Homo sapiens: one gene and its partners. The gene in region 1 interacts genetically with each later gene. Each region holds a gene or a part of one and is shown on either strand. Other genes may lie near its edges. The genes, in order: SPPL3, PLB1, MYLK2, TLR7, PRR16, ATP2B2 and STX4.

What was found.
Region 2: changes in SPPL3 (region 1) and PLB1 together harm fitness less than expected from each alone (positive genetic interaction), as found in Homo sapiens cells (one large-scale study listed by BioGRID).
Region 3: changes in SPPL3 (region 1) and MYLK2 together harm fitness less than expected from each alone (positive genetic interaction), as found in Homo sapiens cells (one large-scale study listed by BioGRID).
Region 4: changes in SPPL3 (region 1) and TLR7 together harm fitness less than expected from each alone (positive genetic interaction), as found in Homo sapiens cells (one large-scale study listed by BioGRID).
Region 5: changes in SPPL3 (region 1) and PRR16 together harm fitness less than expected from each alone (positive genetic interaction), as found in Homo sapiens cells (one large-scale study listed by BioGRID).
Region 6: changes in SPPL3 (region 1) and ATP2B2 together harm fitness less than expected from each alone (positive genetic interaction), as found in Homo sapiens cells (one large-scale study listed by BioGRID).
Region 7: changes in SPPL3 (region 1) and STX4 together harm fitness less than expected from each alone (positive genetic interaction), as found in Homo sapiens cells (one large-scale study listed by BioGRID).

What each region holds. Positions count from the first base shown.
Region 1 is NC_000012.12:120,771,859-120,775,358, forward strand, and holds part of SPPL3 (signal peptide peptidase-like 3), read right to left. Parts: intron 1-3,500.
Region 2 is NC_000002.12:28,600,560-28,604,059, reverse strand, and holds part of PLB1 (phospholipase B1, membrane-associated isoform 1 precursor), read right to left. Parts: intron 3,252-3,500; coding exon 3,200-3,251; intron 2,809-3,199; coding exon 2,728-2,808; intron 2,162-2,727; coding exon 2,096-2,161; intron 1,240-2,095; coding exon 1,139-1,239; intron 95-1,138; coding exon 13-94; intron 1-12. UniProt on the Homo sapiens protein: Calcium-independent membrane-associated phospholipase that catalyzes complete diacylation of phospholipids by hydrolyzing both sn-1 and sn-2 fatty acyl chains attached to the glycerol backbone (phospholipase B activity).
Region 3 is NC_000020.11:31,832,270-31,835,184, reverse strand, and holds the end of MYLK2 (myosin light chain kinase 2, skeletal/cardiac muscle), read right to left. Parts: intron 1,469-2,915; coding exon 1,388-1,468; 3' UTR 501-1,387; downstream 1-500. UniProt on the Homo sapiens protein: Implicated in the level of global muscle contraction and cardiac function. Phosphorylates a specific serine in the N-terminus of a myosin light chain.
Region 4 is NC_000023.11:12,870,072-12,873,571, reverse strand, and holds part of TLR7 (toll-like receptor 7 precursor), read right to left. Parts: intron 1-3,500.
Region 5 is NC_000005.10:120,467,300-120,470,799, reverse strand, and holds part of PRR16 (protein Largen), read right to left. Parts: intron 1-3,500. UniProt on the Homo sapiens protein: Regulator of cell size that promotes cell size increase independently of mTOR and Hippo signaling pathways. Acts by stimulating the translation of specific mRNAs, including those encoding proteins affecting mitochondrial functions.
Region 6 is NC_000003.12:10,502,787-10,506,933, forward strand, and holds the start of ATP2B2 (plasma membrane calcium-transporting ATPase 2), read right to left. Parts: upstream 2,801-4,147; 5' UTR 2,679-2,800; intron 1-2,678. UniProt on the Homo sapiens protein: ATP-driven Ca(2+) ion pump involved in the maintenance of basal intracellular Ca(2+) levels in specialized cells of cerebellar circuit and vestibular and cochlear systems.
Region 7 is NC_000016.10:31,036,558-31,040,664, reverse strand, and holds the end of STX4 (syntaxin-4), read right to left. Parts: intron 2,740-4,107; coding exon 2,631-2,739; intron 2,552-2,630; coding exon 2,475-2,551; exon of another isoform or gene 2,472-2,474; intron 2,156-2,471; coding exon 2,018-2,155; intron 1,125-2,017; coding exon 1,014-1,124; intron 943-1,013; coding exon 862-942; 3' UTR 847-861; intron 754-846; 3' UTR 501-753; downstream 1-500. UniProt on the Homo sapiens protein: Plasma membrane t-SNARE that mediates docking of transport vesicles. Necessary for the translocation of SLC2A4 from intracellular vesicles to the plasma membrane.

The DNA of each region.
Region 1 (3,500 bases):
AACACAATTTCCCGCTCTCCACACATACTGTGTTCTTTTCACGCTCTACCCAGAAGGTCCTGCCCCCGGCTCCTTCATATGGAAAATCCATCCTCATTCTGGAAGAGCCAGGTCAGGAGTCCTTTCTCAGAGTCTTTCCTGATCCAACCAGTCAGTTGCTGCTGCTCTTTTTTTGTTTTTTTGAGACAGAGTTTTGCTCGTTGCCCAGGCTGCAGTACAATGGTGCAATCTCAGCTTACTGCAGCTTCCACCTCCTGGGTTCAAGTGATTCTCCTGTCTCAGCCTCCCGAGTAGCCGGGATTACAGGCATCCATCACCACACCCAGCTAATTTTTGCATTTTTAGTAGAGACAGGGTTTCACCATGTTGGTCAGGCTGGTCTCAAACTCCTGACCTCAGGTGATCCACCCACCCCGGCCTCCCAAAGTGCTGGGATTACAGGCATGAGCCACCGCGCCCGGCCCAGTTGCTTCTTCTATGTGATGTGCCATAGAACGTTGAATGTCTCTCAACTCACTCATCCATTCTATGACCTTGTGAATATTTACATACTGGTAAGTTTATTCCCTGTGCTAGCTGACCACGTGCTCCTGGGAAACAGAAACCATGTCTGATTCTTTCTGTGGATCCCTAGCACTTGACAGAGTAGACATTCAATAAATACTTGCTGAATGAATGCAAAACTGTGTTCTATTAACTTCAAATTTCAAATTATTCTAAGGAAAGTAAAAAGCCATATGAACAGATATATTTCATTTTCATAGAACTGGTGGTAAATTGTCAATATATGTAATAAAGTGGATAAATACAGCAGCTTGGCAGACCCTGGACACATCAACTAAATTACTGTTTCATGGGTTCCTACTGTGTGCACGGTGCTAATATAAACACAGAGGAGAAAAAGCTGCCTCATCCCTACAACTCAGAGGAGTTGGAAAGACAGTATTCAACCTAGGAAGAGCAAAATATATATCTTCATCTCCACTATCATCACTGTTATCAAGCGCTCACTGAGTTACAGGGTGAGCTGCAGTGTGAGTTCTGGAGAGATGTGGTCAAGATCTAATTCCTGACTTTATAATCATATAGAATGTTTATTATACTAAGGTCTCCTTTAATTTTTAAATAAATTCATACAACCAACCTGGTAAAATGTATACAAATGCATGTCATTTGAAATGAACCTAATGAAATGTATTAGTCAGTGAGGCTTGACAAAGCTCAGAGCATTCAGAGCTGCAAAGGGATGACTGAAACATGATGTTTAGGACACTGAGAGATGTACCCAGAGCCCCTGCTCTGATCAACTCACACGCATATTTGAAAGGACAGGACCTCCCATGATCATCATCTTTAGGAAACAAAGATTTGGTTGTGTCATGAGTCAATAACCAGGACATTACCAGGGAGCAGCTCATCTGGCTGGAGGAACAACAGTGGTCAGCAGCAGGTGGGAAGCCCATCGGGCCAGAGCACAGGTGAGACACAGGTTTGTGTATAGATACTGGCTAGGGTGATCTGTTCATGGACTTACAGGTGAATACATGGAATGCAAGGCATCAAGGGCACGAAGAAAGTAACAGAAGGCCTAGGATGGACAGACGGGAGACAGGAGTCTGCGGGGAGTGAGGGTCAGAGGACTGAATGATGCAGCTCACCAGTAACCAAAAGCGGGGCAGGGAAACAGACTGAACAGAGAAGCAAGAGGCCAGGCTCCTCGGGGTAAGTTTATTCGCCTCTGTGACACATGTAGACGACCTGTCCCTTCCTGACCTTTTCTTTTTGGAGATGGAGTCTTGCTCTGTCGCCCACGCTGAGTGCAGTGGCACAAGCTTGGCTCACGGCAACCTGTGCCTCCCAGGTTCAAGTGACTCTCAAGTGACTACCAGCGCCCGCCACCATGCCCAACTAATTTTTGCATTTTTAATAGAGATGGGGTTTCACCATATTGGTCAGGCTGGTCTTGAACTACTAACTTCAGGTGATCCACCTGCCTCAGCCTCCCGAAGTGCTGGGATTACAGGCATGGGCCGCCGCGTCTGGCCCTTCCTGAACTTTTGTACTCAATTTGCCATAGAATCACTTCATCCTAACTGCGCAGGAGCCTTGAAAGGTCACAAGGTCTGAGCATCCACCTGCTGCTTTGTCATTCATCTCATGCTAATCCTCCTCCACCTGCGTCTAAACTAAACATGGAACAGACTGCTCAGTGACTGGGTTTTCCATGACTCCAGACAGTGTCATTCTATCCTAACCTTCCAAATAAGAAAGTCTGGGTTCATCTTCAACACATCACAGCCTCTCATCATACACATGAAATCTGCAGCCATTCTGAGGTGTTATCCTTTACTGTTACTGCAGACCTTGCTCACACCTCCACCCACTTCCTACTTTGCTGTGTCTCCTTTCCCTCCCTCCCTCTTACTCTTTCCCATGTACTGTTCACTGCCACTGTCAAACATCTGTTCACATAATTTCCTGCCTGAAGGTCACCAGGTTCCCTTCTCTATGACGAATCAAGTCTAATTATAAAGTTGCATAAACTCAGGAGGCACAACCTCCACAGAGTGGAGCTGAGCACCATGCTGGCTCTGCCTTGGCATCTGTCTGAACGGGTTCCTATTCCTCAGCCTATCCCTTCTCTCCATCTGCGTTAAGCTGAACACCCTCTTTCCAATTAGACCATCTAGGTCCTCCCCACTCTAGTCTAAGTTCCGTGTATGAAGAGGCAGAAGGCATCCTTTTGACTGTCTCAGAGAAGGCTCTTAGAGGCATGTGGAATAAATACCACTCTGACCCAGCGAACACTGCCACAAGCAATGTCGTATTCCCAGAACATGCTCTCAATCTAGTTTGCCTGCCTTTCATTCTGTCATTCAAGTAACCCTTAAAAAATCTTACCTCCTCCTCAGGGCTTTTCAAGGCTAAAGTGAAGGGAGGTGCTCTCTTTCCCTTGCGGCTTTAGACACTCCTGAGACTCTCTCTTATAGGTTTACCAACACACTTAACTTTTGGTTAAATGTACATTAACCAAAAGTGTTGGGGGAAGTAAATGATTAATCTTAGCCATTTAGCTAGAGTTATTTTCAATTTATCACTGATATCTCTGTATTACATTGTCTTCTACAACCAGTGAGTCAGGGACAAAGACAGTGACACCAAACCGAGCTCAAATGTTCTCTACGAGGATGACATAACCTGTAAGGTTTCTAAGCAGTGCTCACATTCGCGATACAGGCTCTCTAGATATCTATGCCCTATGTGGAGTCAGCGCACCAAGAGTGTAGCATTTTATTTATTTATTTATTTAGAGGCAGAGTCTCACTCTGTTGCCCAGGTTGGAGTGCAGTGGTGCAATCTCAGCTCACTGCAACCCCTGCCTTCCAGGTTCAAGTGATTCTCCTGCCTCAGCCTCCCAAGTAGCTGGGACTACAGGTGCATGCCAGCACACCTTGGTTAATTTTTTTATTTTTAGTAGAGATGGGGTTTCACCATGTTGG
Region 2 (3,500 bases), on another chromosome or scaffold:
TCTTGGTCTTACCCGGTAGGCTCGGCTGAAGGCCTCCAGCCTGGCTAGCTCTTGGGAGTTCTCCCGCAGGGTCAGAACGCAGTTACACAAAACGCTGCACAAAGAGGGGGAGGCAGGAGGCCCCAGAGCTCAGGCTTCCATCAGGGGCTGGTTCTGATTGCCCAGGTTCAGGGGAGGGGTGGAGAGGCTCCCTCCCGCCCTGGTTTAGGAGCACTCAAGCCTTGAGGCTCTGGCGCACATGCTCAGGGGCAGGCTTCAGGCCTGGCAGGGGCACTGGAGATGGCCCGAGGGAGGGAGCCAGTGTGGGAATGAGCACCCTCTCATACCAACAGAGCACAAGTGTTGGACTGCAGGTGCTGGGCCTGCAACCGATTATTCAGCTGAGCAAATGAATTTGGGCAGTGAAAATTTAGTGTTTAATTAAAAAGAAAATGCATCCTCTGGTGTTGGAGCTGATATTTTGGGGCCTCTGATGCTATGCCTTAGACCTCTCCTTCTTTCACATGAGTGCCCTACTGTGTCCCCTTTGGTTTCATCATGAATTATTTCACACCCATCACATCTACTTAAGAGAGAGATTTCTAAAGCACTTGAAACAATGCCTGGTACACAGGAAGTTCTGTAAGATTTGCTGAGTAAATAGATGTGTAAGATATAAAGAATAATAAAACACACATCCATGTACTTATGGCCCAGTTTAAGAAACAAAACACTCCCAGTTTGAAGCTCCCTGTGTCCCTCCTAATTCTCTTCTTCCCCTAAAGGTAACTGAGTTGCTTGTACCTTTTCCTTGCTTTCTGTTACAGTTTGACCACATATGTCTACTTCCCTAACCACTGCCCATGTTCACAGTCTAGGCTATCCTGTCTCTCAAACACCAGCCTCTGTCCCAACTTTGATCCCTCCCCTCTGTGGCTGCCTGGTATCATAGAAGTTCCTGCCAGGCACCTTGAAGTTGGGTAACAGGGGAGTCATGGCTCCAGCCTCTGGAAGGGGACGTTCTGGCAGAAGTCCTCCTTTACAGACTTGGACACATGGATAGACCAAGTCACAAAGACCCTGAGGCATCACCACTGCATGTGGGCCAGACCAGGAGGTGAGGGCATCTCCAGTGTGGGGACAGCCAGGACCTGCCTACCTGGCCTGCTGCACTGGGCACTTGTCTGGGTTTCCCAGGAACACCTGCCGCATGATAGTGGGGTTCAGGAAGTCCACGAGGTTGACCAGGACTCTGGGCACCTAAGGGAAAAGCTGCAGATGAGAGGGGGGCTCCAGGCACTTCTTCCTGGGGCTGTCTCAGGGCCCCTAGGAATGGGTTCCTTTAGCAATCCAGCTTGGTCTTTCTGGAGTTGAGTTCTGGGGAGGAGTCTATACAGGGCTACCTCGTAGGGCCTTACAGGCCGTACATCACACAACTCCATGGGTGCCACCCAAAGGGGCTGCAGCGGCAATGGCACCTCCTGGAGTGGGACAATAAAGACTAAGAGATCATCTCTGTTTAGCCATCATGTAGCAAGCCCAGATACATTAGAATTACCTTCGGTGAGATAGGCAACCTCTTCCCTCCAGCCCAAACTGGCCTAACTCTGCTGAGTAGGCACGCAGACTCAACCCCCACAGGGGAGCATCTGGTGGTCAGAGTGCCCTGTCTCACGCAGCCAGGGCAGCTTGTCCTTGCCAGAAGATGGTGGTGGTGGAGGGGGAATGTGCTGCTGGGTGCAGGACCAGACAGGGGCTTGCTCTAGACACACCCTGTGGCTCAGAAGGCAGTGCCCAGCCTGGGGGCCACCTGGCTGCCACCACCAGAAAATGTCCCGGATAGTAGTGGGGAGACATTAGACAATTCCACCAAGGAGTGTCCCATGTAGTGGTGAGGGAACAGCCTTCCCTCCTTCAGACCTGAGGCCCTTCTGGGCTGATTCCATATAAAATAAGGTTTCCTTGGGGTTAGACCCCAACCTCTGAAAAGGGAAGGAGTCCATGCCCCTGGCTGTCTCCTTGAGAGAAAGGGGTTCTTCTCTCATTCTTTCCCCCCATCCACCTTCACCCTCACCATGCTTGAGCTGTTACCAGCTTGTGGAAGCCCCCCACCCACCTCTCTATGCAGGACGTCCAAGGCATTGCGGAGATGGTGAACAAAGTTGGCTGCAGAATACAGATTCTAGAAAGAGACAGGAAGGAGGAAAAGGAGGAACTGGTTAGGGTGGGAGGGCAGTGGGGCAGTTCTCAACTTCCCTTCTGGCTCCAGCCCTGAGGACTTGTTCCCCCTCTAGCCTCCAGCTGTGGCCAGCTCACCATGTCAAAATCTGAGATGAACAGTTGACTACTTGCTGTTGTCAAAGATGGGCCAGTGGGAAGACTGGAACCTTCAGCCAGAGCTTTGGTTCAGGAGCAGAAAGTGGAGACTCCTCCTTCCAATTGCTTGCTACAGTTTCCTCTTTCTGAATTCTCAGGAGTTATAAGAGAGAGGAGTAGAAATACCATATATCTGCCACCTGCTACCTCACCACCTAGGACATGGAGATGGTGCCAAGGACCTGGAGGGTGGTGGGGTAAGAAGTGTGTGTGTGTGTGTGTGTGTGTGTGTGTGGTATGTGTATATGTGCAGACATAGGTGTAGGTGGATAATCCTAGGATTGGTTTTAGGAACTGTTCTCAGGGAAGATCTCCAACGCCTACTGGGCAAAGTTAGGAACAACAAGTAGGCCTGGACCTGGCCCCAATTACCGAATCTGTGCAGTAGTCACATAAATCGCTGCCTCCGATCAGCACTGTGATGACCTTCCAGTCTTCATGGAAATTTACTCTCTATATGGAGGGAGGAAAATGCTTGATAATTTCCAACAAGGAAATGAAAATATCCCTGCCCTAGGAAATCCATTCAACCCTCTATAACATCCTTGCCCACTTGAAATAATGGAATCAGCATCTCTGAACTGAAGGAATTTTAGAGGTTTATTTATAGACCACAGACTCTTAGCATCAGGAGGGATTTTCAGTGTCGCTGTACCCAGCAACAAAGCTCTCTCCATTGACATACCCTCCTCCACAGGACCTCTGTCAGGGGGCTGTCCGACCACTGCTTGAATGCCTCTAATAACATGGGGCTCACTGCTTTTCAGAGCAGGCCACTCCGTTTGGAGACAACTTTAGTGGGTTAGAAAATTAATGTTTAGAAATAACAGTAAATCTGACTCACATGATCATCTTTCATCTTCTGCATCAGAGTTTGGACTTGGCTCATAAGATCCCTGAGAAAGAGAGAAAACCCATCCTTCTGTTGAGGAACAGTGCCCATAGTTTTCCTCCTAGAGGGCCTGAACCAGAGGCTTCTACAGTATCATCCCCACTGCATGAGCTGGCAGAGATCCCGAGGCTCAGAAACCAGGAGTGACTTGCCTCTTCTGGAAAGTTATTACAACAGATAATCATTTGAAAAGCCAATGATGTGTTTGTCCTACAGCTGTAGTCAAAGTACTGCCAATTATATTTGTTGCTCA
Region 3 (2,915 bases), on another chromosome or scaffold:
TCTCTCTGGCTCAGTTTCTCCCTCTGTAAAACAGGAATAATAATACCTGCCTCATGAGAATCACCTGAAGCCGGGAGGCGGAGGTTGCGTGCAGTGAGCATAGATCACACCACTGTACTCCAGCCTGGACGACAGAGTGAGACTCCATCATAAATCAATCAATCAACCAATCAATCCTGCCTCGTAACTTTGCTGTGAGGAGTAAATGAGTTAACACAGCACAGGCGCTTTAAGTAAAGCTGGGCACGCAGTAATCACACACCCGGTGTAGGCTGTTGCTGCGACCTCCCTCTCACAGGTGAGGATACTGAGGCACAACGTGCAGAAGCCACCTGCCCACATCATGTGCTGGGCAGACTGGCACCTGAGCCTGCATGAACCACCAAACTGTGAGCTGACGGATATTGCTAAAGTGTCCGGTACACAGTAGGTGCTCAGTGAACTGTGGTCATCAGCGACCTCACACCAGTGCAGGCACACACAGAGGGAAGGAGGCCACATCCAACCTGTACATTTATTTACAAGGCACAAGCTGAGAGCAGACTGGAGGCTGCCCCATGGCCTTCCTAATTCTCCTGGGCCTGCTGACCCCATCATCTGAGGCCATGGGTGACCCCCAAGATGGGGGCCCCGAGTGGTTGGGTTGGGCCGGCTTGGCCCTGAGGCAAGCTCGGGGGTGGTCTCCTGTGTCCCTTGGCTTCTCCCCTCCCCCTCCACCAGGCCTGGGCTGGGCGCCCTCTCTCTCACACAGAGTTCCTGTGTGTTGGTGGTCGCAAGGAAGGTGGGTGGGGGCCAGCCTGGGCCAGATGGTGTGGGCTCGGCCTTATCTGCTGGAGTGGGGAGGTGGCGGGGGCATGGAGGTCCTCTCTCACAAAGCCTGCTCTGTCTTCCCTGGCAGCTGGGCCTTAGGAATCAGCGTTGCAGCCTTTCTGCCCCACCAGGAGCCTCCCATCCACAACCACAGAAGCCCTACATGCTGAGACCCCCCAGCCATGGCACTCCAGCTAGGAGGAGGCCCAGGCTAAGGACTCTCCCAGTGGGGCAAAGCAGGGGTCACCACGGCGGCGGCAGTTCAAAGACGAGGAGCTGGGGAGGGAACCGGGAGCGGCTTCAACGGGGGCCTGGAGTCTGGGGTGTGGCCGACAGGCTGGAGCCCTGTCTGGGGAGGTGCTAGCAGGATGGATCCAGGCCACACTCCGAGGCGGCTCACATCGGGGAAGCGGTCACTGCATGGGGGCGTGGGGAGCCCCGAGCCTCCCAGCCTGGCACAGCCTTGTCCTAACGAGGCTGCCCTGGGGATCTGGCTGCCTTTTCTGGCCTTCTGGGCTGTGTGGCTTCAGCCCCGGCCACTGTGTGGCTGCGTCCAGGCTTCAGCTGCGCCCAGGGCTCAGACCCCCAGAGCCATCAGTGCCCCCGAGCTGCTGATCTTCTTGAAGCGGTTGGCAGCGCTGACAGCAATGAAGTTTTTCTAGAGGGCAGAAGAGAGGGAGTCCCAGTCAACACCAGGGCAGGGGGGCAGCTGCAGGGTGTCTGAGCAGCCTGTAAGTCCCCTTCAGTCCAGGAGGGTCACAGGCTAGAGAAGGTGCAGTGCCCAAAATGGCCACGGGAGGCGCCATGACACTGTATTGTCCAGGAGTCCCCTCACTCAACGGATAGGTCAGCCAGACCTGAACCAAGGACCGCTCTGCTCCAAACACTCCCATGGCTCCAGTTTTGCTCCAAGTAAAAGATAAACCCCTTGCCATGGCCGATGAGTCCCTCCAACTCCTGTCCCCCTCTTCCTCTCTAACTTCATTCCTTACCTCCTTGCTCACTCCACTCCATCCATACTGGCCTCCTACCTGTTCCTCAAACTCTCCAACCACACCTCTGCCTCAGGGCCTTTGCACTGGCTACTCCCTCTGCCCGGAATACTCTTCTCCCAGTATTGGCACGGCTCACCCCTCCCCACCTTCAGGTCTTTGTTCACATGCTTCTCAGTGAGCCCTTCCTGACCCCCCCTATTTAGAAGTGCAGGCTGGGCACAGTGGCTCACACCTGTAATCCCAACACTTCGAGAGGCCAAGGCGGGAGGATTGCTTGCCTGAGCAACATGGCGAGACCTCATCTCCACAAAAATATTTTTAAAATATTAACTGGATGTGGTGGCATATGTCTGTGGTCCCAGCTATTCAGGAGGCCAAAGGAGAGGATCACTTGAGCCCAGAAGGTCAAGACTACAGTGAGCCATGATAGCGCCACTGCACTCCAGCTGGGGAGGCAGAGTGAGACCCTGTCTCTAAAAAAAATAAAAATAAAAGTGCAACCTCTCCCCGGCAGAAGGCCCTTATTTTTTTTCTAAAGTCTTCTTTAACCCTGCCTATTTCCACAGGGCTCTAGAAAATGCCCCACCTCAGCCAGGCACAGTGGCTCACGCCTGTAATCCCAGCACTTTGGGAGGCGGAGGCAGGTGGATCACGAGGTCAGGAGTTCAAGACCAGCCTGGCCAACATGGTGAAACCCCGTCTCCACTAAAAATACAAAAATTAGCCAGGTGTGATGGTGGGTGCCTGTAATCCCAGCTACTTGGAAGGCTGAGGCAGGAGAATTGCTTGAACCTGGGAGGCAGAGGTTGCAGTGGGCCGAGATCACGCCATTGTACCCCAGCCTGGGTGACAGAGCAAGACTGTATTGAAAGAAAGAAAAAAAGATAGAAAATGCCCCATCTCTCACCAAAAGTAACTCCACAAAGACTGAGATCTTTGTCTCTTTTGTCCACTCCTATATCCCAATGCCTAGAAGTAGTAGATGCTCAAGAAATATTTGAAAAATGAAGGAGGGAAGCCAGAGCCCCAGATGGGTGGGGCTGGGTGGAAGGCCGGGTAGAGGTCTCCACTCTAGGACAGGAGCCAGCCCAGGGCAAAAACAGAAAAGTC
Region 4 (3,500 bases), on another chromosome or scaffold:
TAAAACTTTTAAAATCAAATTACAGAGGAAATAAGATCTCATCATAACAACGTAGAAGGAAATTGTGAAAAAGGAAAAATTCAACAAGTATTTATTGATGCCTGCAACATGCCAGGTACTTCTCTAGGTGTTTGGGACATCAGTGGACAAAATAGAAAAGATTTCCACTCAACTATAGCTTATGTTCTCTAAATAATCACAAAAATATATAACTGTCAGAAATGATATTGCATGTCAAGTGATAAGTGTTACTGAAAAAGAAAACAGGGCAGAGTGAAAAGGATCAGGAATGTGGGGTAGGATTGTGACGATAAATAGGGCAGCTTGGATAGGCATCATTAAGAAGTTGATATCTAAACAAAGACCTCAAGGAAAGGACAAAGTCATCCATAACAGACATCCAGGGGAAATGCATTCCAGACAGATGGATTAGCCTGGAGCAAAGGCCCCAAGGTGAAAACATGCTAGAATATTCACAAAAATGGCAACGGGGCCAATATTGCTGAAGCAGGGGGTGTAGGAGAACAATAGGAGATGAAGTCAGAGAGGGAGTGTCCCTGAGCATGTTGGGCTTTCTCTACCATTCCATGGATGGCGGTCTCTGCTCTGGGTGGAATGCAGATGCATTGCAAATTTTTGAGCTGACAATCAGTTGGTCTGACTTACATTTGAGAAGGATGCTGCTGGCTGCTGTGTTGAGAATAGACAGTGAGGGGCAAGGGTGAAAGCAGGGAGACTAGTTGAGAGGCTATTACAGTCATTCAAGCAGAAGTCCCAGGTAGCAGTGCTGGAGGGCGTAAGAACTGGCCGAACACCAGATATGTTTTGAAGGAGTAGCTACATAAAATATGACTTCAAAGTTCTTGGAAGAACGTAAGGAGAGGGATTTGGAGACAGCAAACATTTCTAGGAGGTTTCCTGTCAAGAGGACGAAAGACATGGTGGGTAGTTCACAGGCAATACAGCTTTCACCTCGCGCGTACTGGCACACACACACTTTCTCTCTCTCTCTCCCTGTTTCTCCCTCTCTCCCTTTCTCTCACCCACTTGCTTTGGAGTCCTGAGTCATCACCCTTGTAAGAAGCCTGGCTATACGACAACCACCATATTAGAGAGACCACATGGAGACAGAGACACTTGAGGAGCTGCAGCTGCTTCGGCACCTAGCTGTTGAGTCTCCTAGCCCAGGCATCAGACCTGGAGAGTGAGTCTTCAGGTGATTCCAGTCGCAGTCACCGCCTGACTGCCACCCCAAGAGAGACCCTGTGGGAGAGCTGCCTAATGAGTCCAGTCAACTCCTGGACCCATGATAGAAAGCAGTATATGATTGTTGTTGTTTGAAGCCATTGCATTTTGAGGTGATCTCTTACGCAGTGATAGGTAACTGGAACAGGAAGTCAGACAGGACATATGGGAGCAGATGGTCTAGGTAGGTACACAAGGAGGAGAAAGAGGAGAAAATGGAGAGTCCTCCAGGAGGGTTGGAGAGTTTTCTGGATGGAGAAGTAGAGTGTGATTGCAATAAGGAATTCTCCCACCCACTACACCCCAGCAAATGAAACCCTCACCTTTCTGTATTGAATCGGTAGGCATGCCCCTGCCAGTCTATTATATATTCTTTGCATAGCTATTATCTGGCTACAATGGATTATTTTCAGCAGCAATCTTGGCAAAAGGAAATTTATCTTGAGATGAGACTATTTGAGGCCTGGGGAACGCTTTTATTTTTATAGTGAGTTAAGAAAGGATTTCCTGCTCTCCTGACTCTACTCTTTTACCCAACTAACCAACCAGTCAGAAAGGCCCCTGGGCACCCCCTGGGCTACAACATGTTAGCCCTGAGAGGACAACAGCCCCATGCACTCAGCTGTTCCTCCAAGCGACTTTCAAGATCACAGAGCAGAAAAAAGCCAAGTTGCCTGAGTTTAAAAGGAAATGTTGGGATCTGCATTTCTAAGACAAAGAGTTGCTTGAGCCAAGACGTGTGAGCGAGGGGCTTTCTGTGATGGCGGGGAGCCTGCAGCGGGGGTCTGGGAGAAACCAGAGGGGATGGCTGCCTGGCTGAAGAAAACTTAGAAAGGGCATGGAAGAAGTAAGCAATGGCCGGGGCGATTGCTGGAAACCTTGCCCTCAAATTCATTGACTTTTTGCCATGTTTATATCACACTGAATTGTTTGGTAACTAGAGATGTGTTGTGTATGTCTCCCTAGAGAATAACCAAGCACTGTGAATAAGGGAAGTTGCTGAAATGCTATTCATTTTATAGACTGAGCCTCTGCTAGGAATTTCCCAAATAGATTTATTAACAAATATCCCCTATTTGTGAATTTTGAAATATTTTTAATTTTAGTTTAATCTCTGTAAAGTACAAATACCATGAATATCAGTTTCATTATGTCACCAAAACGTTTAAGTACAAGGTTGTAAACCACTTGCTTTTTTTTAAAAAAAGGAGAGAGTTATCATTTACTTCCTATCATTTTAGCCCAACAGACTTAGTTTTCAAACTAAAAGAATAAAAGGATATAAAGTTGTCTTACATAAATTAGGAACTCAACAGCTATTATGCATCACAACAGTCACCAAAGACCATAGGGCTCTCAAACCTATTTGACCTTATACCTTATCCCTTTGTTTTCTATAAGCCCCGGCCTGACGTACTTTTTCTGTAAAGGGCCAGTTAGTAAATGGTTTAATCTTTGCAGGCCATCAGGTTCTCTGTCACACTACCCAACTCCTTGAATAGTTTGCCATCGTAGTGCAAAAGCACTTATCAACAATAAGTAAACAAATACTCAAACAATAAAACCATTTGTAAACACTGAAACTTGAATGTAACTTTTATATGTCACAAAATAGTAATTTTGCTCTGATATTTTTCAGTCTTTTAAAAACAACAATTAAAAAAAAACCCCTTAGCTCATGAGCTGTACAGCAGGTGGGATATAGCCCATGGGCCATAGTTTGCCAACCCCAGCCCTAAACTTCGGTGAGTTTCGGGGATATACATTATTTATTCTTGGGGTGCAGAGGTACTGGCTGGTTAATCTGTAATGATGATTTTTAATTTTAGTACAGCGTTCCAAATTTTTAAATAATCAGATTGTATTAATTTAATAAATTGATTACTTAATAACCTTTTTTTAGCCATAAAGAAATTTCCTATAGGTTAAGAGCAGAATAATATTTTTACTTTTAAATTTGCTGAACCACTATTGACATTTTGGGAGATGGTCCCTTCTAATAGTAATTTCCCATCCCTGCATCTATTTCACATGGTGAGAAGCATTCTAGTAACAGCCAAGGCTTTGTCAGTACAAAAATTTGGTTTTAAGTCCTTGTTCTGTCATGTAAGAGCTCTCTGACTTTCATAAATCACTTGACCTCATGAGCCTCTGATTTGCCAACTGTAAAATGGTTATAAAGTAGGGATGTTGAATGAAATTAGAATATGCAACACATGTGTTTATGTAAACCATCATCACAGATTATCCAACAT
Region 5 (3,500 bases), on another chromosome or scaffold:
TACTATCTCGGACCTCAGATTTCTTATGTGTAAAATGGGCAATATCAGTAACTTCCTCATCTACCTGTTTTGAGAATTAGATAATTTAATATAAATAAATGCGCTGAGAAGAGTACCTGGCAGAGAGTAAGACCTCTGTTAGATATTCATATTGCCAAAACTGCTCTTTCTAGTGACGTTTAATAACCATGAAAAGCTGGAAATAAATAGAATACCCAATATTAAGGGAAGTATGAAGTAACTTATAGCAAATCTGTGTAATAGTTACGATCTATATCATTCAAGAAAGTAGAAAATGTCATTGCTTATAATTTATAACTTTGTATAACTTCATCTATGTTAAAATATGCATACAAAAAGACTAAAAGAAAATATGACAAAATGTTTAGTATACTTATTTTTATGTGGTACTAAAGATAATTTTTGTTTTCTCCTTTATATTTCTTTAGATTTTTGCAAACTTTCTATAATATTCATGTGCTGCTCCTAACATCAGAAAAAATAAATTTGATTTTTTTAATAGTGCCCTTTGTTGTTTGTTAACTTTGTATTTGCAGCTTGATGTCAGTCATGTATATTTCAATCAGAGTTGAATCAGCGACCTACTGGAATTTTATTACTCTAAATCTCTAAAATTGCCCCTGAAATTTTTCAAGAACTATCTCTACAGAAGAAAAGTTCTATAGTTTGGGAAAATATGTTTTGCTCAAACTTGCATTTCTATCTTTTTTCCTACATTTAGATTTAAGTACCTGAGATCCTCAGAGAAGCAAGGATGAAAATAACATAATCCAGGTAATAATGAAACCTATTACACTGGCTTTATTATCTATTACTTCACTGTTGCCTGAAACACACTATCTATTACTTTAAGGCTGCTTGAATTTCTTATCAGCTAATTCTCTAAGTGTTGAATGTTTTAATTCATTGGAAATAGACAGTGATGGATGATTATTGGCTACCTCTATGTTCTCAAAATTATTTTTGGTAACTGCTAGGCCATCATGCCTAAGTAAAGAAAAATTTCAGAGCATTTTAGCATTTGGTAAATATACCACAGTTTGGGGAGGTAGACTGTGGTATAAAGTAGTAAAAGTATGACTATTGCTACAATTAAAAGAACTACTAAATTCTATTTATACACAACTTTAGAACTTGGAAAATACTTCAAGCCAGACATGGTGGCTCATACCTATAATTCTACCACTTTGGGAGGCCTAAGCAGGAGGATGACTTGAAGACAGGTGTTCAAGATCAGCCTGGGGAATATGGCAAGACACCATCTCTATCAAAAAAAAAAAAATTAAAAATTAGCCAGGCATGGCGGCGCATGCCTCTAGTCCCAGCTACTCAGAAGGCTGAGGTGGTAAGACTCCTTCAACCTAAGAGATGGAGGCTGCAGTGAGCCAAGATCTCTAACACTGCCCTACAACCTAAGTGACAGGGCAAGATACTGTCTCAAACAAAAAGAAAATAGTTCCGAGATTATTCTCTATAATTTTTTCTTGTAACGAATTTTTTATGCATGGGCTCATTAACCAAAAAATACTCGGTAGGAATTTCCAGACAATAAACTATAGAACATCAAGTGGTTAAGACATTAAAAGAGGGAACATTTAGAAGTGAAAATATTTTTCAGATAATTGTTAATTCTGTTTTCATCAGTTCAAATCAGACTGTTTCCTATGGGGTTCAAATTGTTCAAAATTCAACTTAAATTTATTTCAGTTTATGCCATTGTAAGACAAATTATGGGTGCTTTCCAGTCCATGGCAACAATGCTGACATACTTCTCACCAATGGAGATCCAGTCACTGAGTGATTCTAAGGCAACAACAAAACAACTTTATTTTAGTTTCTCTGTTAGAGTCATGTCTATTCAGAAAGCCTCTCAAGAAATTATTTACATATGTTTTTCAACTCATATAGTAGCCTTGTTACTTGAAATCATAAAAATAAACACTACAAGAAAAGCTCAAGGTTATAACAAGTCTAAACTAAAAGAGAATCCAGCTAAAGCTGCAATTAGTTTTGTTTCCAGATAAAAGGCTGATTATTACAGATTCCAGTGTCACTCTGACCAATAAGATATGTGATCCCATATTAATACCAGCATTTAATGCAAAATAGTTTACCAGTGAGATCTTCATAAAAGAACAGGCATATTGCTACTCAAAGGCATTAGATTATTTGAGAACTATTTTAAAAAGCAATTGCTTTGTTTCTACATTTCTTAGTGAAAAAGTATCACTCACACCTACTCTACCAGTTATGGTTAATTTTATCACTAAAACTCTAGAGTTTCACCACTATTTTCTTCTTTTTTTTCAATGTGTAGAAAAATGCAACATGGATTACTCTTGTAGTCCAAACCTATTTCCTTTTACCTGTGACTACCTCTTAAAACCCTATTTACATTAAGAAAAAGAAGAATTCAAAATCTTCCTTTTTAACTCTCCATTTCTCCAAAAGACTTAGCTTTCATGGAAATCTTCAGTATTTAGTTACAACATTTGAATATGTAATCTCCTGTATATGGTATTGATCCATTTATGTTAACCATGACAATCTAAGTCAACTGTAAATTTCTTAAAATTCATATATTTTCATCTTTTTAAGCTTATTTCTTCATCAAAGACTTGCCATACTACTAAGTATGCAGCACACATCATTTTATAAATCAACATATACTCACTCTCATTCTCAATTCTCGATTTCCCCAAGCCTGCAGTGAGAGTGGCCACTAAAGGCCACAATGTCTTTTTATACTGCTGATGTTGGAAGACAGGATAAATATATCCCTAACTAACCTTTGGAGCTCACTGAGACCAGAAACTATGCCTTATTCATCTTGGTAGCAATTTAAAAGGTGTTATAGTACTTGGAACATGGTAGGTGCTCAATAAGTATACTGAATTATATTTAAGGCTTTTCCAATATATTAATAGCATAGAAAACAAAAGGACCCATATTATTTCTGAAAAGTCAAATTATTTGAGATTTTACTAAATTCTGAGAGTAGAATAAGGCTGCTCTTTGACTTTCTAGAAAGCCTGTTCCTCTGCTTCTAATATATAATCCAATTATAACTGATTAAGTAATTATAACTAAATAATCATAAAACAGATACCCAAAATAACAACTCTTCTTGCTGAGCAGACTAGAGTTTTGTCACTACTTATTAAAGTGTTTCAAGCAATTACTATTATGTTTGATTCTATCCTACTACCTGAGTTTTCAGATGACTTAAGCCCAGAAAACTTCTATGAAGAAAAGCAATTTCAGAGTAACCTCAAACCAAAGTTTAATATTGTTGGTGCAGAAATTACACAAAAACAAAGAACAGAATTAAAGAAGATTGCATTTTAACTAGATATTTTTTAAAAGCAGAAAGAAAAAATAAATACTATATGATGACTGCCATAGTGATATAGTCATAACTACTTTTTTATTTTTAATTTCTGTTGCAAGTTAAGAAGAGCTCGCCGATAATTTATATT
Region 6 (4,147 bases), on another chromosome or scaffold:
TAAGTTCTTGAGCTATAGGTTCCCAAAATTTTGGTACCCCAATTTGAACTGGCCTCATGCCGAAGGGTCAAAGAGGGTAGTTGGGCACCTGGTGGCCTGCCTTCTACCTCCCCTCTGCCACATGCCAGCTGTGTGACCTTGGGTGACACAGCTTCACCTCTCTAGATACAGCGTCCTCATCTGGGACGTGGGGATAACAGGGCTATGGGCGTCCTCACTGAGATGATACGTGCAAAGCAGTTAGCTGGGTGAATGCTAGCTGGATTACTATTATTTACTTGGGTCCCCTGACCCATACCTGCGCCTGAGCTGGGGGAACGCAGAGGAGGGCAGCGGGACAGCACAGGAGGGTGCCAGCATTTCAGGCTCTGCATACAACGTAAGCCACAGCAGCTTCTCTGACCTTCAGTCTGGAGGGGACTTTGGAGTCTGCTGAAGGTGTTCCAGGCCCCAGCTCTCAGAGACCCCATAGCAGCGGGCTGGTTTCCTGATGCCAGGGAGAGGGCTGGTGGGGCCAGTCTGGGCTCCTGGCGGTCTGGGCCACGGGCAGCAGCTGCGTCCCTGGCCGCCTCTGTCTCCTTTCCAACTTTGGGCAGCCTTCTCTGAAGAACATCAATAACCCAAGATGGCCTTGCTGAGTCTAATCACAGCTCCCTGGGAATACGGGCTGGCCCTCCCCCAACGCCTGTGTGAGGCTGTGGCGGGCACTTAGGATCCAGTATCCCTCTGTCCTCATCGGAAGTCCCTTAAGGGGCAAGCTCTCCCTAGCACCCACAGAGCCACCTTGCCTCCTGGAAGCTGAGGGGGCGGGTGTGTGCACGCAGCATCCGCAGAGGTGCTGCATCTGTGTGCCTGTGGCCGTCTTCTTATGTGTGCAACTGACATTCACCTGTGGGCACATTCCAGCATGCCATGTGCCTGCCAATGCACGGGCAGGCACGCAGATGGCATTCAGAGCCCCACATGTGTGTGCCTGTTGTTTTCACACCTGAGCCAGCCCTCAGGTGGGTACACACATTTCTGGCTGTTGCAGGGCACTGTGTGCAGCCTACTGCTTTCCCGTGTTAGTGCTACATGCATGTGTGGGCAAGCTGCATGCACAGGTGTGTATGTGTGTACTGCATTCGTGTGTGTGCTGTGTTTTGCACGTGAGCATGTGGTGTTCAGGAACGTGGGTTGTATTTACAGGTGCTGGGGTGTGGGCATGGGCATTCCATATGTGTATATATGATTTGGACATATATGACGCACTACTTATGGGTACTATATTTGTATCTGTGCATATGTGTGAATTTGTGGGCATGCATATGCCCTGATGTGAATGGGACTAGGGTGTGAAGGTGGCTAAATAATGGTGGCCATCAGCATCTTTCCTGGACCCCCAACCCCCCACAGGACTCCCCAGAGCTGCAGCCCCTTCTTTGCCACTGCTCCTTCAACGAAGTTAACAGGCGGAGGCCCCCAAGGCCTGCGCTCCAAGCCCCCTCCTACTGCACACGTCAAAGGAGAATTTCTCCGGATGGCGCCCGCTGATCCTGGAAATACCCCAAACGTCAGCTCTGCCTCCTCCCAGCGATTCGGAGAGCAATGCAGGAGAGGAGGGAGCCCCTTCCACGCTGGGCTCAGGGCATGCAGCGTCGCACTAAGACCCTCTGCCGGCTGGTCGGGCTTGCCTGCTCACTTACCCTTCTGAAGGTCGAGCCAGGCTGGGCCTCTGCATGGAGGGCCCGAGACCCCCAGGGCCCTTGCCTGATTGGGGCAGGCCAGTCCAGAGCACCCCCCCAACCCCCAACCCCCAACCTGGGTGAGCAGAGGACAGCCGTGGTGTGGAATAGCTACTTGGCTAGAAAGGGGTTGCTGCTGTCCGCAACCCACCCTCAGGGAGTCCTGAGGCCCCCTGCTGCATTTTCCCATCCTGACCCTGCAGGGGGCAGGGAGGAGCCTCAGGTGCCCTATCCCTCAGCTGGAGACCACTGAGGCTGGCCTAGGAAGTGGGCTTCTGGGCAGAGGGTGCCGACTCCACCACCCAGCATGACTGCTGCAAAATGGCCTGGCCACCCGTTCCTGCCACCCTCCTGGCCATGGAGGGGACCCAGGAACACGTCCCTGCCACCACATGACCCGGCTGGCCTGACCCAATGAGTCCCAGCACACAGCTGCCCACCCCACCAAAGGGACGCTTCACAGGGGCCTCCTCCTGCCTCTTTCCTGGGACTCTGACCAGGGTGGGCAACGGGCACCCTCCAGTCCTCTTGGTCTCCCTGGGACCGGCTCAGAGAGAAGAGAACCTTGTCCCCTGCCACCAGCTTGCTGGCCCTTGCATAACATCCTTAGGGGGCATTTGCAGTCCAGAGGCTGCCGGAATCTACCTGAGACCCTGGGCATCCGCTTGTCCGAGGCCCCCCTGTCCTAGTCCCCAGCATCCAGCCGTCCCCCACAACACGCGGACCCTCACACTAGTGTCTCCCTCAGCGGCGGCTCCCAGTGCAGCCTCGGCTGCTGCCAGATAAACAAGCCCTGCTCCCACCCCCCCTCCACGCTGCCACCGCCACCACCATCAGCACTGAGAAAAATCAAATGAAATGAAACAAAATAAAATGGGTGAGGGAGGAAGGGGAGAGTGGAGTGGGGCGCTTTTTATTTTTTATTTTCTCATGCTGGGGGATGCCGGTACTTACTTGGCTATGAAAATCACCACCAATCCTGCACGGTTTCCCGGCGGGCAGCCCCGTAATCGCGGTGCGGCAGCTGGTGCCGCGGCTGAGCCCAGCCAGCGTGCCCGGGCCCCTCTGCAGACTGTACCATCCTGCCCGAGCGGGTGGGGGGCGGGGGGCGGAGGCGCCGGCGCCGGTTCTAGGAGAGCATCTCGCCGGCAAAATGCAATCTCGGGGGAGGCAGAGGCCGCCCCTGCCGCTGCCGGAGGCTGGGGGATGGGGGCGGGAGGAGGGAGGGAGGGAGGGACACAGGGAGGGCCGGTTCTGGAGGGGGCACGGGGGAGGAGAGTGGGGGGCGGGGGGGGTGTGTGGACCGAACCACCACGCTGTTGTTTGCGGTTTTAATTCCTCCCGTGGGATCATGAGGAACCGAAGCTGGCAGAGTCCCAGGAATATGCCCGCTCCCCAGAAGCAGGAGGGAATGTCAAGGGCACGGAGAGGGTAGGGCTGGGCTGTGCTGGAGGGAAGGGGGTCCTGAGAGTGGTGGTGGGGAGAACGGGAGCAGAGAGGGGAGGATTTTGCTCAAATGGCCCCAAGTCGTCCCTTGCTTTCTGGGGGACTTATTTGGTCAGGGGCTCTGGCCCCCCTCTTTGCAGTCAAGGCACCCCCAGACCTGGGGGGCAAAGGGGCAAAGGTCGCAAATGGGGAGAAGTCGACTCAACACATTTTAAACACATCTGTGTTTCCAGGGCCAGTGGAGCTGAGCCCGCAGCAGCTCTCTGCTGCCCTGAAGCGCTACCCCTGCGACCCGCCCTGCCTGTGTGCGACCCCACCTGCCCTCGGGGGGGTGTGGTGGTGGGGGCTGGCTTGGCAGAAGGGCCTGCCTCAAGAAGGTGCCCACCAGCAGGGGTGTCTGCATGTCTGTACACCCACCTAATCTTCAGGACATCTATGATGAGTTGCAGGCCGACTGTGGGCTGACTGACACTTCCACGGGAACCCAGGGACCCCGGGTGAGGAGTCGGTAGGGTTGGAAGCCCCTAGCCAGCTGCTCACCTCTTCCTGCCTAATCTCTGCCAGACTTGCTGCTCTTTCAACTCCAGATGGGTGGGAGGAGAGCCCTAAGAGCAAGGTTAGGAGGTCACCGGGGGCGAGGGGCTTCTCTAGAATTCTGAAGCCTTGGCCTCCACTGCCCTGCCCCCTCCAGGAGGGGTACCCTGCTTGGAGGGAGGGCACTGAAGGTGGAAGGACCTTCAGGACCAGTGTCTCAGGGCACCTGTCAGGGTGGAGGGGTGCATGGGGGACAGGGGCAGGGCTGGAGGCGGCCCCGGGAGGCAGTTCCAGGCAGAAGCTGCCTCTTTCCCCTGCCCCCACCTCCTGCCCACCTCTGAGCTGCCCGCCCGAGCGTCCCGAGCTGCCGCTCCATCCCTGGGCTGGCACAGAATACCAATTTGTCTCGTTAAGCTGAAAGTCTGCACTGCACCAAAATCAGA
Region 7 (4,107 bases), on another chromosome or scaffold:
TCACAGGGCCCGGCCTCCTGTGCTTTCTGACTGGCAACCTCTTCCCCAGCTTAACATCCCACTCCAATGTCATCCCTGCTGAAACCAGACCATCCCTATCCACTGCATCCAAAGTGACAGCCTCAATTAGGCATTTTTTCATGGTGCCTCTTCCTCTGGGCCACAAGAAGGCCCACTGATGCCACCCAAACCCCCATCTCACCTGCGTCCCAGCCTGGCCTGGTCAGCCTCATCATTTCCAAGACAGATACTCACAGTGGTCCTTTCCCGGGGACAGTACTGAGCCAGGAGCTAGATGCCGGTGTTACCCCTCCCTGCCCACCCATTCCTATGGGGGTGCAGAAAGGCAGAACCAGCCTGCTGTGGGCACAGCACCCCTGGCAGTTTGACCTGAGCAGCCAGGGCCAGACCTGGCCCTGGGGACGTCCAGGAGGTAAGGAGGTTGGATGCCCGGAAGCCTTGGGCCAGCCCTTCCAGGAACACACGTGCACAGGGCTTTCTATGCTCTTTTTTTGTTTTTTAATTTTTTACAAAACCGTGTGTCCCGGCCAATCAGGACAGTGCAGGCCTCCCCCAGGCATTGAGGCCTGAAGGAGGAGGCCATCATGAATGAGCAGCTGCCAACCCCAGAAGAACTGTCTGCCCTTCTGCATAGGGGCCAGTGTGAGGAAGGGGTCCGACTGGAGGCTCTGCCCTGCCCCCCAGGCTGCTGGGAGAGAAGGCCAGGCCCTGGGTTCCTGGTGCTCCTAGTGCCTGTAAGGAAAGGAGGGAGAACAGGGTCTGAGGGAGGAGGGAGGGCTGGGGCCAGGGCTGGGGCAGGCCAGGGGGCAGCCCACAACATCTCACCAACAATGTGCGACATTATCCAACCACTGTGACGCCAATGATGACTGCTAGGAGGACGACGGTGATGGACACACAGATGGCAATCAAGACTTTCTTCTGTGGGAGAGGAGGGGGTCAGGGAAGTCACACAGGGTGCCTGGGGCAGTGGCCGGGCCTGGGAGGCTCACCTTCCTCGCCTTCTTCTGGTTCTCCAGGGCCGTCTTGACGTGCTCCTGCCCACGTTCCACGTAGTCCGCTGAGCTCAGGATGTTCTTCTCAATCCGATTGATCATCTCCCCCTGCTCAGAGGATGGGGTGGTTCAGGGAGGTAAGGATGCCTTTGCCCACCCCACCCCAGATGACTGAAGAACATTCCTGGCAGGAAAAAAAAATTGCACTAACAAAGACAAGGGCAAGACTTGATCTGACAAAAGTTCAGACTCCTTGGGGATGGCTTCCAGGCCCCTTCTATCATGTAGTCCCTTGTCCCCTGCTCACTTATCCCATACAACCTCTATCTGCAGTGGTAGCTTGGAGCTAAGGGCCTCAAATGGCTCATACCTTTCACAGATGGTGAACTGTGCCTTCACAAATCTGTCTGAATTTACCCATTCTTCCAGGCCTATCTACAGCTGCTGCAAAGCCCTCCCTATCCCTGCCTCCTCCTGGCACCACCAGCCTCAGGTCTCAGTACTCCTACTGAATGAGATCTCTTTCCTGTAAGTCTCAGCTGCAAAAGGGCATTGGCTGTAGCATGACTGAGGCCAGCTCCTCCAGGACAGGGCTGGAAGCTCAACTCAACTCACAACCAGGGCCAGGGGAACGCCGCCCCCACCCCAGCCTTGTACAGATGTTAGGAGGCAGCCCCTCTAGGGCAACTCTGACTGGACCTCTGAGAGGTATAAGGGTGGATGCTGTTAGTGGAGGGGGAGTGAGGGCTGGGGCCAGACCTGGGCAGGCTCAAGTTTTGGAGAGGGGGCAGGGTGCTATGCAGAAGGGAGTGGGCATCTGTGTAGCAGCAGAGGCAGGTGCCATTCTCGGGGTACAGCTAAGGATAGGAATAAGCACCAATCTGGGGGCATGGCCAAACCTGGAAGACACAAAAGCCTCAGGGAGAGAATCTAAGGGTGGCGGGAGGCTGGCAGTTTGGACTGAGCCTGGTCTCACGTCTGGGGCTGCGCGGGGCACCCACCTGCATCTCCACTTCGGTAGCCAGAAAAGTGAATATGTCGTGCAGCTCACGAATACTGCGTTCAAGCTGCTGGATCTCACTGTGCCGGGCCGAGATCTCATTTAAGGCCTGTCGAGTCACCTGCGTGTCCTTCAGGATCTGGGGGGTGGACAGGAGTGGGGCAACTGTTCACAGGGAGACCGACAGCAGGTCAGAAACTCCTGTTGAGCTTCTGGGGAGCCCTCAGCCTGGAATCTGATGGGTGACTCCAGGCAGGCTAATTAATTCCCTTAGAGGCCTCAGGGTGCCCTTAATCAGAAAGGGCCACAGCAAGCGGGGTGCAGTGGCTTGCACCTATAGTCCCAGCTACTCGGGAGGCTGAGGCAGGAGGATCACCTGAGCCCAGGAGGTCGAGAAACGGACAGGACTCAGAGGGGATGGGAGGCACAGCAGAGAGGGGCTGGCTGTGGCCACTCACATTGGACACAAACACCTCGCTTTGCCCACTGTCCAGCATCTGCTCCAACTCCTCATCAGACACCATCCCAGCATTGGCTGTGAAGGAAAAGGCCAGGCTCAGGGTTGGGTTGGGATTACCTGCCCCTGCGGGCCAGGCTGGGCATGCACAACTCACTGATCTTCAGCTGCCTCCGAATCCGCTCCACGTTCTTCTCCCGGTATTCGGACTGCATTGAATTGCACTTGTTGATGAGCTCCACGAATTGCTGGGACAGGACCCCATGCTAAAGATGAAGAATATAGGCTGAGTGCCCCTGGGAGGATCCCTGCCCGGTCGGTGCCTCGGCAACCCCATAGTACAGTGAGCAAATAGCATGAGCTCTTATGCGGGATCTGCCACCTTAACCACCTTGTGATGACCTTGACAGGCTCCCCCATTTCTCTTAGACTAAAAGCCAAAGCCCTTATCAGGCCTATGTGGTCCTCCATGATCTTTTTTATTTATTTATTTATTTATTTATTTATTTATTTATTTATTATTTGTTTTTTGAGACAGAGTTTCACTCTTGTTGCCCAGGCTGGAGTGCAGTGGCACAATCTCGGCTCACTGCAACCTTGGCCTCCCGGGTTCAAGCAATTCTCTTGCCTCAGCCTCCCGAGTAGCTGGGACTACAGGCACGCGCCACCACGCACGGCTAATTTTTGTATTTTTAGTAGAGATGGGGTTTCACCATGTTGGCCAGGATGGTCTTGATCTCTTGACCTTGTGATCCACCTGCCTCGGCCTCCATTACAGGCGTGAGCCACTGCACCTGGCCTATTTTTATTTTTAATAGAGACAGGGTTGGCCGGGCACGGTGGCTCATGCCTGTGATCCCAGCACTTTGGGAGGCTGAGGCAGGTGGATCACCTGAGGTCAGGAGGTCAAGACCAGCCTGGCCAACGTGGTGAAACCCCATCTCTACTAAAAGTACAGAAATTAGCTTGGTGCAGTGGTGGGCGCCTGTAGTCCCAGCTACTTGGGAGGCTGAAGCAAGAGAATGGCTTGAACCCAGGAGGCGGAGGTTGCAGTGAGCAGAGATGGCACCACTGTACTCCAGCCTGGGCAACAGAGTGAGACCCTGTCTCAAAGGAAAAAAAAAAAAGGGGGGGGGGTCTCACTATATTGCCCAGGCTGGTCTCAAACTCCTGGGCTCAACCAATCCTCCCACCTCAGCCTCCAAAGTGCTGGGATTACAGGCGTGAGCCACGGTGCCTGGCTAGCCCTCTATGATCTCTCCTTCTCCCATGACCTCTCTGATCTTACTTCCTCTTACTGTTCCCTTCCTCTGCCCATCCACACTGGTCTCCTTACCCCTCCCTAGACAAAGCACACTCTCAGCTTAAGCCTTTGCATTCACTTTTCCTTCTACCTAGAATGCTCATTCCCAGCAAACACCTTTAAGTCTCTTGTTCAGATGTTACCTTCTGAATGAAGCTTCCTCCACCTGCTTTCAACTGCAACTCTACCTCCTCCAGCATGCTTAGTCCCTCTTCCCCTGCTCTTTTTTCCTTAATGCTTATTATGTTCTAAATAATTCACTTATTTATTATGGTGATTGTCTACACCAGAAGGGAAGTTCCATGAGGACAGGGATCACTGGTTCACTGCT